2 separate regions of the Homo sapiens genome follow, and region 2 is linked to region 1. Evidence: fine-mapped expression QTL. Tissue or cell type: tibial artery. Region 1 holds a variant in brackets; the other region holds the start of a gene. All regions are shown on one strand. Distances are from middle to middle.

The links. PIP is the estimated chance that this variant, and not a neighbour inherited with it, causes the effect.
Region 2: FHL5 starts here. The variant in region 1 is fine-mapped to the expression of FHL5 in tibial artery (GTEx, PIP 0.90).

The regions. Positions count from the first base shown.
Region 1 is chr6:95,599,126-95,607,238 of GRCh38, forward strand. MANEA (mannosidase endo-alpha) reads left to right here. Exons shown (of 5, transcript NM_024641.4): 4 at 5,702-5,778; 5 at 6,623-8,113. The coding sequence ends at 7,280. Among named protein-coding and RNA genes, the nearest start is that of MANEA, 26 kb to the left of the region's middle. The variant C/A (reference allele first, on the strand shown) is at 4,820.
Region 2 is chr6:96,558,393-96,566,496 of GRCh38, forward strand. FHL5 (four and a half LIM domains 5) reads left to right here and starts at 4,736. Exons shown (of 6, transcript NM_001322466.2): 1 at 4,736-4,963.

The DNA.
Region 1 (8,113 bases):
ATTTAAAGAAGGTAAAACATGGTTATCTTAAGAGATACTGAAAATTTTAGGAAATAAAAATTCATTGTTAATGAAGTCCTTAGTAACCAAAGTTCTTTAGCTTGATAAAGGGTGTCTCTTAGTATCTTATTTCAAACACTATATCTGATGGATATACTACACCTGTAGTCCCAGCTACTACTCAGGAGGCTGAGGCATGAGAATTGCTTGAACCTGGGAGGCAGAGATTGCAGTGAGCTGAGATTGGTGCCACTGCACTCCAGCCTGGGCGACAGAGTGAGAGTCTATCTCAAAAAAAAAAAAAAAAGTGATGTAGGTTCTTTTAACTAGAGACCACTCTGAGATTGCAACCACTCTTAAAATTTGCTGAAGCTTTTTATTTGCTCTGTAACTTCTTGCAGTTATATTCTAATGGAGGACAATCTGGTTTGTCCAATACTGGTAATTGAGCCCTGTAAGATATGTTATGGACCACTGTTGAAATATTTCGTTTCAAATAAAAATGTGAAACATTAGTTTTGTCTTAATTTTCCTTTTGCAGCCTAGAGATTGAGTAGTTATTGGAGAATAGAAATGGAACTGTAGGGAGTGAGAAAGAGCTAAATAGGCAAGCATTTTTTTATTTCTGTCCATAAAGCTGCCTCTTCTTTCTGATTTACTATCCTGAAACTGTTAAGACAGCATCTCTCAAATTAGCTGTCTAGCAAGAGCTGTCACCTGCCATGTCCCTTGGTGCCTTTCAGTGAGTTCTTATTGGCATTTGAAATCTGCAAATAGGCAAGCCTCCAGGTTCTGGTGCCCAGGCTGAGGTTGGGTAAGTGATTGATTTATCTTCCACAAAACAAGCCCAAGAGCTGCTTTTCTGTCCAGGCCCTGCCAAAATCCTGGAAGATGGAAGCTCAAGAAACTGGCTATTTTAGTACTTTCAGGAAGTTTTGAAAGAGAAAATGAAAATGTTATGATATATGAGGATTGGTTGGCTTTTTCTCCTGTTTAAAGTGTCTGTGTAGAGAAGGAGAGTGTGGCAAAGAGCTCGACCACTAATTGCCTATTTAATGTTGCCAGCATACTTGATCTCTCTGTGCTAGGGATTTTATATCTAATGATCAGAAAAACTTGGAACACGATAGACTAATGTTTTCCAAAATTTTTAGAACAGTTTCTTGGCCTCGTGTATGGTGAGGAACTATGTATAGACAAAGAATAGACCTGGAATCATGAGACTGGAGCTTGTTCTAACTGAGTAGCTCTGGAATCTTATATTAGTTCCTTGATCTTCTTGGCTTATCCCCTTCATTTGTACAATGACAATGAAACCATAAGATAGTTTTATTGGATTTGTCTATGATTTCTGTTGTTGTGGAACAGACATTTTTCCTAACTCAATAAAATGCAGTAAATCCTGTTTTTTTAAAGAATGGAAAACTTTCCCTTTTCTTGCTAATATAAGGAAATTTTAATATGTTTAATGAATGACAGTACCTTACTAGAATTATTCAGTGTGCTAAGGCAATCTGATAGGAAAAGATTAATGATGTTGTAGATTGTGTGCTGACAAATTGGAGCCTCCAATGCACATAACTGACCACATCTAAAACTTTTAAGTGTAAAATGCGTTCATTAGTAACATCTCTTTTTTCTTGCTAGTCTTCAAAGCATGGAAATACTAAATGGATGGAGAATTTTTAGGGAATGAATCCGTCTCACAGTTAAACTTTTGTTATAGTTCATTCATTTTGATTATATAATGTTTTTACTAATATTAGTCATTAAATATTTTGTAATTGTAATTTTGATTTGTTAACTTCAACCAAGAGTTATTTTAAGTAAGTGCCTTTTAAATTATAAACAAACATGCAAGAAAAGGAAATGATTGGTGCTTTAGTTATTTTTCATTATCTTTAGCAAATGTGACTAGGTTTTTTTTTGGAAGTGTAAATGAGTGAAACTAAAATTTAAATCTTGATTTTTCAAAGCGATTTAGTTTCTGTTCTTTTAAAGTATACTTGTCTGCATGTTTGCTAGAGCAAAGGCTGTTGCACTTATAACTGTCATTTAGTAGGCTGGTTTTGCAGAGAGTGTAAAAATCAGGGCTGGATTCCTTCCTCTATATCCTGCACCATTAAGAACACAGCAACGGAACAATTTTTTGAGTAAGACATGACAGAAATATTTGGTAGATTCCGTCATTGTTTAGCAAATAATCTGGTTTTCCTTCCCCTGCATGCAAAGAGTAAGTATACTTCCTGCCCTGTTGTTGTTGGGTTTGGCCTTATGGCTTGCTTTGGCTGATGAGATGTGAGAAGAGATAATGTATACTATGTGCTTGCATGATTATGCTCTTATTCTCTTTTATAAGAAAAGCATGCCCCTTTCTGCCTAGGACTCAGAATGACAGACACGTGGAGCTGATTTGAACCAGCCTGGAGCAGAACCATCATAAGCCAGTTCATAGATTTTATGTTCGAAAAGCAAATGTTTGTCTTTTAGAGCCACTGAGATTGTGGGGTTGTTACATGGCATTATCTAATCAAAACTTGACTGAATTAAATCATTCATCTAAGTAAAAGAAAATTAGGCAGATTCAGTGATTTTTTTTTTTTTTTTTTTTTTTTTTTTGCTTAGGATTATAGGGGAAAGAACCAACTCAGCCCTGGTGATCTTCTTTCATTTTAATAAATTTAGTATGTTATTTTAAAGTAGCATATTTTCTTTCTACTTTATGCAGAAATCACATTTCTTATACTAGGTTTATCAACATCCATTATTTCTTTGCATATGGCTCTAGAGTCATTTTATCTGCTTTTCAGGCTTATGCAGATTTCAACCATGTGAAACATGAATATAAGTATGTCCGTGATTCTTTTTTAAATGATTTTCACCTACATTTGAAACATGTTATATTAGTCATGGCCTCTCCTTTTTCTTTTTCCTTGTTAAATGAATATTGTGAATTCATGGCAGAAACTTTGGGAATCTTACCTAAATCCAGTATAAGTGACAGACTTAAGAGTTTAACTGTTGTTTGTTTTTGCATGCAAATCATTAGTCCATTTATTTATGCATGCATTCATTCATTTAGCACCTGCTACGTGTCAGATACAGTCCCAGATGCTGACAATATTAAGAAGAAGGATGAAGTATTATCTCTTTCCCTAAAATGCCTTGTAATCTACTGGAGGTCAGACACAAAGACAAGTAAATTTCAGGAAGAGAAAAGTATGAGGTATTATGGCACCACATAGGAGTAGGAAGACCTACCTCAATTTTGTTGTGGCAGGGGATAGGGGAGTGTGCAGGGGTGAAGGTAGAGAATAGAGTTGGAGAAGGAGAAAGTTATCAGATTTTCATTCAAAAAAGTTCATTTTATTAAAATTTATTTATTAAAGTTATTAAAATGCAGGGTAGGGAAGAGACAGGAAAGGTCAAAATTAAAAACATGAAATGAGGGAATGTTTATATTCTTATTCTTTAAAGATAAGAAAGACATTTCATTTTATGTATAGAATTCTGTTATTTTAAAATTTATTTTAACATTGATCTAATTGATTTTTCCAAATGGAATAGAGAGATGGAGACTAGATCACATCATTAATTAAAATTGCAAAGTAATGGCCGGGCGCGGTGGCTCACGCCTGTAATCCCAGCACTTTGGGAGGCCGAGGCGGGTGGATCATGAGGTCAGGAGATCGAGACCATCCTGGCTAACAAGGTGAAACCCCGTCTCTACTAAAAATACAAAAAATTAGCCGGGCGCGGTGGCGGGCGCCTGTAGTCCCAGCTACTCGGGAGGCTGAGGCAGGAGAATGGCGTGAACCCGGGAAGCGGAGCTTGCAGTGAGCCGAGATTGCGCCACTGCAGTCCGCAGTCCGGCCTGGGCGACAGAGCGAGACTCCGTCTCAAAAAAAAAAAAAAAAAAAAAAAAAATTGCAAAGTAATTTTATTATAATTAAGAAATTAGAAATACATGAGGGAAAATTTTAAATATTTTATACTTATCAATACTATATTTACTTTAAATATATTGATCTGCGCTTTACAAAAATAGCATGCTATTTGTTGTTTGCAGCTGTAAAAGCAAATTCATTTTGATATAGGATATTTCAAGTTGGATATTGCTTAAATATGGTGTCCTTTATGTATAAAATGGAAATTTAGAAAACACAGTGATGTAACTGAAGGAAGAATTACCCAAGGAAACATTATGTAATAGTATGAAAATACCTATACACTAGGCAATTTGCTTTCAACTGAATTTAAAAAGCAAATACCAAAGTTATTGAGAAATCTAGCTGCCCTAGCAGTTACTACCCTGGCAATACTAACAATATGCTGCAAAAATTAATTTGACCTTAGTTTTTTATGACAGAAACTTACTTTTATAATATTACTGTAATCTCATTTAAAGTAGAAAATTATATTTTTTTTAAATATTATTTAACTTTAAAATTAATTATGTGAAAACAAGTAGCACTGATTAATGTAAAATACATTTTGCTTTAATTGGGTAATTGAAAACAGAGGAGTTTCATATTGCAATAGAAGTCTCTAGTTCCATAAATACATCATAGAGCCTGAAACCTAAAATTAAAACAGTATCAATACATTTATTAGACTGCCATAAAGATTTTTAGTTGATGTTGGTAAGTCAGTAAAACTAGGAATAAAAGTGAAAATCCTCATTCTTTGTTTTATGAATCTGAAATAGATTGTCATCTAAGAGAAGTATCTTCTGTATTTTTTACCTTACTAGTTAGAAGTAGCATACAGAATGGTTTTACTAGCCATAATTAGTTTGTCTTGATTTATGTATAGCCAA[C/A]CTTAAGTTAAAAAATTTTAGTCTGTGCACAGTATTTTAAAAATATTTGTAATTACTGCTCTCTATGTTTACATATATATATATAATGTATGTATGTGTGCGTATATATGTATGTAGGTGTGTGTGTGTGTGTGTGTGTGTGTGTGTGTGTATGGGATATCCAAACCATAAATACCTAGGCATCATGAAAAATGTCCTTTATAACACTAGTGGATATTATTTTTAAGCGATTTCATTATAAATTCTTTAATAGAAGTTAATGTATATTATTTTGTAAAATGCTGTTTTAATGATATGGAAGAATTTATATGTAAATAAATTTGCTAATGACTTCTATTTAAATTTAAGCTTAATGGTCACATGCCTGAAAAAAATCCAGATTTTTCTGGACCATATTTTTTTGGTCTTTTTCCTAAAAGAAACATATATCTGAATATAGAGTATTTCCTATATATATTATATGGGATACAAATATGTAAGAAACATTTTTATAAGGAGTAAACATAAAAAGAAGCATTGCACAGCAGTTAAGCATTTGAACTCGGAATTCAGATCATCAATATTACCTCCAACAAACTGGGTGACCTGGAACAACTTACTGAACCTTTCTTAAGGTTCTGTCTATCTTTGATTACCTCACTAAGAAAACAGAAATACCTTAGGGAGTTGTGAAGATTAACCAAGATAATAATATAAAATGTTTAGCATGTTATTTAGCAGTAAATTTTATTGGTAAAAATTCTCTGGTAGTTTCTGTGTTCAATAAATATTCATCTTTAATTAAGGTGATTAAATCAGTTACTTTATTAAATATATTAAGTATACTTCTAATTTTACATTATAGATAATTTATCCCCTAACTGATTTTATTGTTTGTTTTAGGTTACTTTTCACATAGAACCATATAGCAATCGAGATGATCAAAACATGTACAAAAATGTCAAGTATATTATAGACAAGTGAGTTTCTTCAATATTTATAAATATTGTTATATTATCCAGTGATAATTATTGTTTTAAGAATAGTACATTAAATTATATTTGAGATTTGAATGATTTATGATTATTCCATTTTTAATAAAATTAAATTGTTATTGTAATGAATGTCACCATCATTTCGAAGAACATTGCTGAAGTTTCTTATAATTCACTTTCTTTTTGGAAGATTGCTGTTTTTACTGTTTTACAGGTTTATAGGCTATTTATGATTTCTGTAGTTTTGATATTTTAAAATGACATTATTTTCTAAACCTTCAGAATATAGCTTTATCTTTTTAAAAAGAAGGTTCAGATTATTAAAAGTGAACTACTTCTTTTAACACAGTAGACCCAGAGCTGATATTTTCATTTATATCTAGCCTGATCAAAAAGAATTTATTAATACAGTTTTCATTTTTTGAAAGAATTTTACTGATAATAGTCTGTGACAGATGCCATAGTCTTACAAAGAAACTTGTCAGCAACAGTAGAACATTTATCACTGATAGATAAAAAAGCAGTTTAGGTATTATGTAGAGTATTATTTATAATGTAGAGACATAGGCTTTTTATGGCATTAGTCATCATTTGTAAACCTCAATATGAGATGGTTAATACTTGTTTGGTAATGCATCCAGTATCTCATTTTCTAATGTGTAAAATTAAAAATGCATTTTTAATTATTACACTTACACAACTGATTCCCCTAAGAAATGGAGCAGTGTGCTCAAACTGCACTGACTCCTTCATTTTCAGTAAACAGTTTTTGTCTGTGGCAAATTAGTTGTGAATATTCATTTCACTTTTATATATGCTTATTTTCTAGATATGGAAATCATCCGGCCTTTTACAGGTACAAGACGAAGACTGGCAATGCTCTTCCTATGTTTTATGTCTATGATTCCTATATTACCAAGCCTGAAAAATGGGCCAATCTGTTAACCACCTCAGGGTCTCGGAGTATTCGCAATTCTCCTTATGATGGACTGTTTATTGCCCTTCTGGTAGAAGAAAAACATAAGTATGATATTCTTCAAAGTGGTTTTGATGGAATTTACACATATTTTGCCACAAATGGCTTTACTTATGGCTCATCACATCAGAATTGGGCTAGCCTAAAATTATTTTGTGATAAATACAACTTAATATTTATCCCAAGTGTGGGCCCAGGATACATAGATACCAGCATCCGTCCATGGAACACGCAAAACACTCGGAACCGAATCAATGGGAAGTATTATGAAATTGGTCTGAGTGCCGCACTTCAGACACGCCCCAGCTTAATTTCTATCACCTCTTTTAATGAGTGGCATGAAGGAACTCAGATTGAAAAAGCTGTTCCCAAAAGAACCAGTAATACAGTGTACCTAGATTACCGTCCTCATAAACCAGGTCTTTACCTAGAACTGACTCGCAAGTGGTCTGAAAAATACAGTAAGGAAAGAGCAACTTATGCATTAGATCGCCAGCTGCCTGTTTCTTAATGCATTGATTAAAGTTTAATAGTTATCAAAATCACCTAATTTTTAAAAATAGCTTTCGTTTTGAGTTCTGGAAAGAAAACTGTCAAAATCAGTATATACTATTAGTTATATTTAAAAATATTTTTTTAAATTCTTTACAGATAATATTATACTTGTTACCCTTCACAATACCACATGAGAAAATATCTGAGACAAAATGTATACAAATATATTCCTTATGGCATAATTTATTGCATTTCTGACTGAAATCAAAATTCTGATTTGATGGCAATTGAATTTTCATTTTACAATAGATAAATGCTTGTGCTACCTAAAGCACTTAGCACACAGTTAAATTATATTTACATCCTAGACCCAAATAAATAGGATTGTGTGTATATTTGGGATATCTATTGAAGAAAAAAAGAAAACCCCTTAAAGATAATGTACATGCTTCATGTCATGTCTTTAAAATAATTTAATCAACTTTATTGTCTTAGTATTTAGACTCTGGATAACTCTACAATAATGAGGAAATTCTTAAGAATAACAAAATCACTGTACCTTCCTCTCAATTTTGCTGTGAACCTGAAATGGCTTTAAATTAATACTCTTATTTTTTATTTAATTTAATTACATAAATTAAACCTTACCATGACCAAATTGTGTTAGGACGGCCTGCTATCTACAGCACAGTGTGTCATTTGCAGATTTGTGGTTACCTATACCACGCTAGGTGTTTTGACATGTTTAGTGTTTCTGCTTTACAGTGCTGAATTCCATATTTTAGAAGCTATGAAAGTCCTTTTATGAAAAAGTTACTGATTGCTTCTCAGTTATTAGGAAAACAGTTG
Region 2 (8,104 bases), 960 kb after region 1:
GAGAGGCTTCTTTCAAACCTTCTAAGAATGAAACTGACTTTCAGGCTTTCAGAAAAACAATTTGTATTACACTTACATCATAAAAAAGAAGGAATAACCACTGTAAACATGTATTCAATGTTTATAAGTTCCCAGTGTTGTATTATTTGTTTTATCAAACTTGCCCCTAGTTGCATCTCTATTTCTCTGAAGTGATTAGTAGTAAGACAATCTGGGTGTTTGTTTTAAGGAGCAGGAAAGACAGGATTACATTGATGGTGAAATGGAGGAAAGGGAGAACATGGTGAATTTATGGACTTGGCCTAATTTACTCGATCGTGTATGACAGCTAAATACTAGGAAGGCACATATCAACTTTAAAGGTATGTTTTACTTTCAAAGAAATAACAAGTCAATAATTACAGTTAAATATAGTGTCTTGGTAAAAGTACACAGAGGGTGTTGTGACAAGAAATGAAATTTAGACTGTGTTGCACAATGGGGAGGCTGGAAATAACACCTGAACCAAGAGTCCAGAGAGAAAAAAAGAAGGATTAGCCTTGGTGAAAATGAGAGAAGGGAAGGAGAGCATATTAAGGCAGAGAAAAGGAGGTACAGAAGTACTATGACGCTAATTAGAATGAAATAATGAGATGTGGGGAGCCAAGAAGTCTGAGAAATATAATAACTGATCTGGGGAAGTAGTGTAAGATAAAGTAGAGAGAATAGGGGGGTTTTGAAATGCCTTAAACACTAAGCTACAAAGTTCAACCACTATCTCAAAAACATGGAAGCCTTTAAAAGATTCAACTAACCAGGGAAATTAAGTAATTACATTTGTCTTCTAAAAAAATTACATTCTGGAAAGCAATTTGGCAATTTACCAAAATTCTTTAAAATGTACATATTATTCGTGAAATTAATGTCTTCCTTTTCTGAGAATTAAAATGACTAAAAAATGTATACGAGTCTTTTTTCCCAGCCTCTAGTAGAGAGGAACATGGACACCTTCTCTTGCACAGAAACAGGCCAATCTTGGCTCTGAAATAGTCTATTCAGATACTAGTCTGCCAAAGAAAAACTGCGATCTGACTAGTCAACCTAAGACAAAAGTCTCAAAGGTTGTCTCATGTTTTGTGTTACTCAATGTAAAGAAGTAAAAGTGCTTTGTCAAACTGTTTTACTACTGAGCCTGTCTTTACTCATCTAAAATGCAGTCCTTAACCTAATTCTATCATACAGACTTCAGAGTTGGGTAAGAACTTGAAGACTTGACACATAGAACATATTGTTGTTTAAATACAACCTAATAAATGTAAATGTACTTAAAGTCAATGTTCTAGATTTTTCTCCTTTCCTCTTTTCAGTCTTAATCTCAGTCCTGTGATTTGTATGTTTTAAATGCTGAGTGTATCTTTTGGTGTTGAAAAAAGAGAGAAAAAAAAGGAGAGCTATTCCATTATGTATTTTATTACATAGCAACTATTTGTTATAGCCACTTTAAAAATATTTTATTGGCTTGTCCATCAGTGAATGACTGGATAAAGAAAATGTGGCACATCTACACCATGGAATACTATGCAGCCATAAAAAAGGATGAGTTTGTGTCCTTTGCAGGGACATGGATGAAGCTGGAAACCATCATTCTCAGCAAAGTAACACAAGAAGAGAAAACCAAACACCACATGTTCTTACTGATAAATGGGAGTTGAACAATGAGAACACATGGACACAGGGAGGGGAACACCACGCACCGGGGCCTGTTGTAGGGTGAGGGGCTGGGGGAGGGATAGTATTAGGAGAAATATCTAATGTAAATGATGAGTTGATGGGTGCAGCAAACCAACATGGCACATGTATACATATGTAACAAACCTGTATGTTGTGCACATGTACCCCAGAACTTAAAGTATAATAATAAAATAAAAAATATTTTATTGGCTTGGAAAATTACAGTATATTAAGTGAAAACAAGGATACAGATTTATAATGGGGTTCAGGATGCACTACGCTAAAATATGGCACCTTGGTGTTTGAGAAAACTCCAGAAGCAGGAAGATCATTCCCACCTTCCCTTTACCCTTCTCTCCCGAGGCAGGTCATAAGACCCTCATTCAAGAGACCTCCCTATGCCTGGAAGAAAGGAACACAAAGAAGAGTCTAAACAAACAGGCCTTGCTAAGTTCCCCCGAGTGTATAATCATTAGACTATATCCCCTTTGTCCAGTCATACTTTTCCATGACTATCCACTCTTCATCAAATCTAAGCATAAAAATACACACGTTTATCTCTTGCTTTGAGTCTTCATTTCTGAAAGGCTCCCATGTCCCATAAAAACTTACATTAAATAATTTGTATACTTTTATTAATTTGCCTTTTTTTATAGGGGCCTCAACCATAAACCTAGTAATGGAAAAGAAAAATATCTCGCACTTTCTACAAGTATATACAATGTGGTCTTGGTTTTCTAACTAAATATACTGCATAACTATGTTATGCAATATATTTACAAAAAATTTTAGCATTTCTCTGTATCATTAATATATGAATGATACAAAGCCTAAAGAGGTACACAAAGATTTGGTCTGGGCTGTCTTGGATTGCAAATCATTTTACATTTTACATTTTCTGTATATGTTTTCCAGTTTCTGTTCCAGATTATCTGCAAGAAGCATGTATTTTATAATTTAACAAACTTATTTAAAAATAATATTTTTCTATAGAGAAGGATAGAAAGGGATCAGGCTGAGGCAGATGCCAGTTATTTTATGGCTGACAGAATAATCTGAGTGAGACATGTGAGACATGGAATGCAGGGGTGAGGACAAATTTGAGAAAGATCATTTAACAAACTAGAACCTACAGAAGGTGGACAATGATGGGGATGGTGGAGGATAAATGAGGAAAGGGAATACTCTAACATAAGGGGTGGATGATTGTGCCATTCCCTGAAGTAGGAAATACAGCAAACTAACAAGTTTGGAATGGGGAGAAGACAATAAGGATATTTGGGACTGTTGAGTTTGAGATGGCTGGGGACCCCTAGACAAGGTTTTCTAATAGATAGCGGGATACAGGTCTGGAACCTTGAAGAGTGGTATCAGATGAAAGTACACATTTGGGAGTCATGTTGTATAAAATTGTTCATTGTTTTGATGAAGAACGTGATGGAAAGTCTGCAGAGAAGCATACTGAACAGAAGATAAAGCTCTAGGGAAGAGTGAGGTGAATAGAGAGAAAGTGAGGGTGCTAAGAGCAAACAGAAAATCAGAAGGGTGTAACATAGCAAAACCAAGGGAAGATAATTTCAGAAAGAAATAGACATGGCCAGAGATGAGAATTTTTCGGTAAGACTGAAGACCATACTCTTTGGGTTGCTAATCAAGGTTGTATATGATCTTAATGAAGCTTTTTTGGAGCGGTTCAAGTGAAAGACAGATTGCAATAAGTTGGGAGGGAGAAGAAGGCTCAGAATGTAGTAGGTTTGGAATGACTTGGTGGATGTAGATTACCCTCTCAGGAAGCATGGGAGCAAATAAAGAGGGTGATGGTCCCAGGCACTTTTACATCTCAAGGACTGCTTTCCTTGCCCATAAAACAAGGAAAATACAGGCAGTACCTGTTTAGCAATGGTGTCCTAAGGATTAAAATCTATTACTAATGAAATATACTTGTGTCCTTTTGCTGAATCCAAATTTATTGTTGTTAGTCGCCATATGTTCATTTTCATAATGTCTTAATCATTAAAGTCAAGTGAATAACAAAACATACAGTTAACTGGCTCTGCATTTCTCTAGCTCAAGTTCTTTGACTGTATATACCCGAGTTTGACCTTAGAAGATATTAACATTTCATTCCTTTAGCAGTTAGAACAAGGACAGTTTAAGTTTGGTCTGGGATTAAGGCAGAATTTCTTCTCTCATCCTGCCTTCCAAACTGAAGAAATGGCCTCAAATGGAGATTCTAAGAGAAAATGTCACTTGCCTTATGAATCAGTGTGCCCCACTGAGGATACCTATTATGGATTGGTTTAATATCCAAAAATTTCTTCAGATCCAACTCTTGACATCTCTGTCCACTTTTTGTGTTTTGAAGATTTCAAAAGACTCAATGAGTTTATGCTTTATGAAGTCATAGAGCCATGGATGTGATGTCACAATTGTGGCCAGCTCACCAGGAAGCAGGCAGAGCGGGGAAGGCTGAGTCCACACTGCAAGTCCAGAGAGCAGGGAACTACCTTGAGTATTCTACTCAAACTTATGTCTCAGAGTTCCCCAATTTCCCAAGAAGGGAGAGATAGAGGCCACAATCCAGGGGGCCATCTCTTAAGGTACCAATAATTTTGCAGGTAAGAGCATGGGACCTCATCCCTTTCCAGATGGCCTCAAAAGGAGATTCTAAGAGACAATGTCCAAAAGAAAAGCTCAGCGGTTCAGACATTTCTAACCTAAAAGAAGGGTTCTGATCACCACCAGAAAACAAAGAAAACAAAGCCAAAAACAGATTGAGGAAACAGAAAATACATCATCCTTTTAGAGTATTATTTTTATAAATATGCCCTTAATTTAGCCTAGTTAGTGGAAATTTCTCAAGTGTGTATGCGTCTGTGTGAACATTGTGTATTTTAAACTTTTTGGAGCTTAGCCAGATACTTCGAATGCTAATCCTGGCAGAATTTCCCTTTAAGGATGTCCTGCAGAGAATTTGTTACTCATAGTTTTAAGTAAAAATTGACAAATAGTGCTTTTTCAGCCCAGTAGGAGTCATGTACACGGTATAAGACTTGGAGGAAATGCAGGGACCCTTCTGTTTTCTCCTGCAAAGTTGAAAAAGCTGCATGCAGTTGGAAGGGATCTTCAGATGGTGCTGGTGACTTTCTGTTCCTTTTGGAGTTGACATGCATGTGGATTGGAGGAAAAATAATCAACATATATTCTCCTTTCGTACTGTTTAAATCACAGGAAGAAGCGGCTTTAAGACAAAGTGAGTTCTTTCCCCCAAATATTTCCTTTGTTTTGTTTTGTGGTATTTTGACTTCTCTAATTTTTTTTTAAGGATGAGAAATTTTTATAAACTTTCCAGTAACTACTTAAGAGAAAACTTTTGCTTGGCAAAAGTGTATGCCTTTTGAAGTTTCTTAGCCATTTTAGCTAAAGGTTATCAAATTTTATATGCTGAGCTTTTCAGATTTCTCATTCTTATAACTTGCATGTGGAGGTAACATAGGGGCCAGATAACTCCTTGGAATTGCCTCTTGAGTTTTTCTAATGGTCTTAATGTGGGGTATAGCTTTATTGTTGTAAAAAGAGGAAGAAGAGGAGGGCTCTTGAGATTTTATTTGGCTTAATTTATTTGAATGAATAACATTATCACTGAGCATATTTTATGACTAGATTTATATTTCAAGAGCACATTTTGAAGTCACTTACAGGTTTTAAGTAAAAGGAGTTAATGAGATTCCTGCTATTTTCAAGAAAAATCTGCCTACTTTCCAGAAGTGGGCATACAAAAATTCATAATCTTTAATTTTCTAAGGTTAAATTAAAATATCTGTGTTTCCAGCCCACAGAAATATATAATAGACTATATCAATCTAAAGTGCTACTTCTTGAAACAGAGGTAGTGTTATTCAGGCAAAAAGCATACATCCCATATGTGTTAATGCTTTCTCTCTCACTATTTTAGTCATATCCTCTTTGGTACCTATCATTCATTTGAAAACCAAATGCAGCTCCTCAGCTGTCATTTCAGACTTTAGAAAATTGGAAACTAAAAAGAATTATTAACAAAATGCATAGCTCTCATACATAAAATGTAAGGAAATCCTTGAGCCATTTTAGCCCTCATTTTATATCCACAATACCATCATGTGTAAATACTAGCATTTTTATTAGCAAAGCATATGGATTAAAATTTAACATAGGTATTGCAAACATATGTATCATACAAGATATTTCTTAACATATGTGTTATGATATATGCTTTAAGCCATAATCCAAATTGCTTTAAGGGGAAGGTAAACTCTAGTGTCTGTTTTCTACACTTGTTCTATTTATTCTCACATTATTATTAGTTGCCAAATCTGGGACTGTTCTACCTAAGCAAGAGTAGTAGATTTGTGTTTTAATATAACACCACCTCACTGACAAATTTACCTCTTATTTTTATTACACTTACCAACATTTTGAGTAAAGCTGAATTAATCTGTGTTTCTTACATAAGACTGGGTACTTTTCTACTATAATATTACAAATAAGAGTTTAGAAAATTTAGAGATTTAGAGAATATTTAGAGACAGATATTTAATTTGTCTGTTTTTATTTTTTCAATCGAGGGAACATGATCTCTTTAGAAATGAAAGCTGAATACTTGGGTTCGCATGGGAAGCTCTGAATCAGATATTAGTTAAACCAGCTTGCATTTCCTTGTTCTTGTAATTATCTTTTTCCTCTCCAATTACCATAATTTTTCTTGGTTACTTTTTGGTACCCTGAAAGCTCATTGAAGGAGAGGAAGAGAAGAAAGAGGTAGAGGAAGAGGAGGAGAAGGAGGACTCCTTTTTGCCCAACATGCCTCAAATCCCTGCAAAATAATCAGCTTGAGGCCAGGCACGGTGGCTCACTTCTGTAATCCTAGCTTTGGGAGGCCAAGGTCGTGGGGATCACTTGAGCCCAGGGTTCAAGACCAGCTGGGGCAATATAGGGAGACTCTATTTAAAATAAAAATAAATAATCAGCTTATTGATGACATACCCTAGTATTTTATATGAACTAGTAAAACATTCTTATGGGTTTGGGTTTACCTTATCCTCACCATATGTCTAAACTTTCACATGGGCTAATTACCCTGATTAGAACATACTAGGATATGTCAACAGCAAGGTTTACATTCATTAAATAAATAAAGCTAGAGAGTCTCTTTGAAAACAATAGTGTGATGTGGAGAACAGAGTCAAGGTTTTGAAGTGTCATTCATACTGAGTTTTCTATGAATGAGGGCAAGTGAGTTTGCCTCCCTACCTTAAAGATATAATTAAAACAGCTGTGTTATAGAATTTTATATTAGAATAATAATAACAGTAGTCATTTTTATTTTTTGTCTTCTCAAATTCTTCGGTTATACTTCCAGCACCAATGGACCTTAAATTTATCTCACTTGATTTTTAGCAAAGCTTTGAGCGATTCCTTTGCATATTCATTTTGCCAAAGGAATACTCACCAAATGGATCCTGAGTAGATTATTTTGATATATTCAGGTTGTCTCCTCCCATTTAAAAATATACCTTTTTGTATTTTTCCAATATCATTGCAATTATAATGCTCTAAAGATGGTGGTGTGGAAGTGGAGTGGAGAAATATGCTTCTTGGGCTTGTTCTCCAGCTTGATTTTGTTTAACTATCTCTTACAATTATTCATAAAACAATTTAAGTAACATGTCATAAGTCACATGACTTCTAAGATTTTTTTCTTCTTAAATTTTTTCTTTTTTGCTTTTATTAGTATTACTATAGACATGTAACTGTACATATCCATCAGGTACAATGTGATATTTGTATACATGTATATGACAAATTATCAAATCAGGGTAAATAGCATATTTATTACCTTATTTTTCATTTCTTTGTGTTGGGAACATTTACAATCCACTCTTCTAGCTATTTGAAAATATACAATAAATTGCTAATTATAGTTACCCTATAGTGCTATAGAACACTCAAACTTATTCCTCCTATCTAGCTGTATTTTGTATTTCTTAACCTACCTTTGGCTATCTCTTTCTTCCCCCTACCCTTTTCTGCTTCCAGTAAGCACTATTCTGCTCTCTCCTTCTATGAGATTGACTTTTTTAGCTTCTTCATATTCATGAGGACATGCAGTATTTATCTTTCTGTGTCTAGCTTATTTCACTTAAAATAATGTCCTCCAAGCTCATTCATGTTGCCGTGAATGACAGAAATTTGTTCTTTTTTACAACTAAATAATACTTCATTGGGATATATAGCACTTTTTTTAATCCATTCGCCTATTGATGGAAACTTAGGTAATTTCATATCTTGGCTATGTGTTGTGAGTAGTGCTGCAATAAACATGGGAATACAGATATCTCTTTAACATACTGATTTC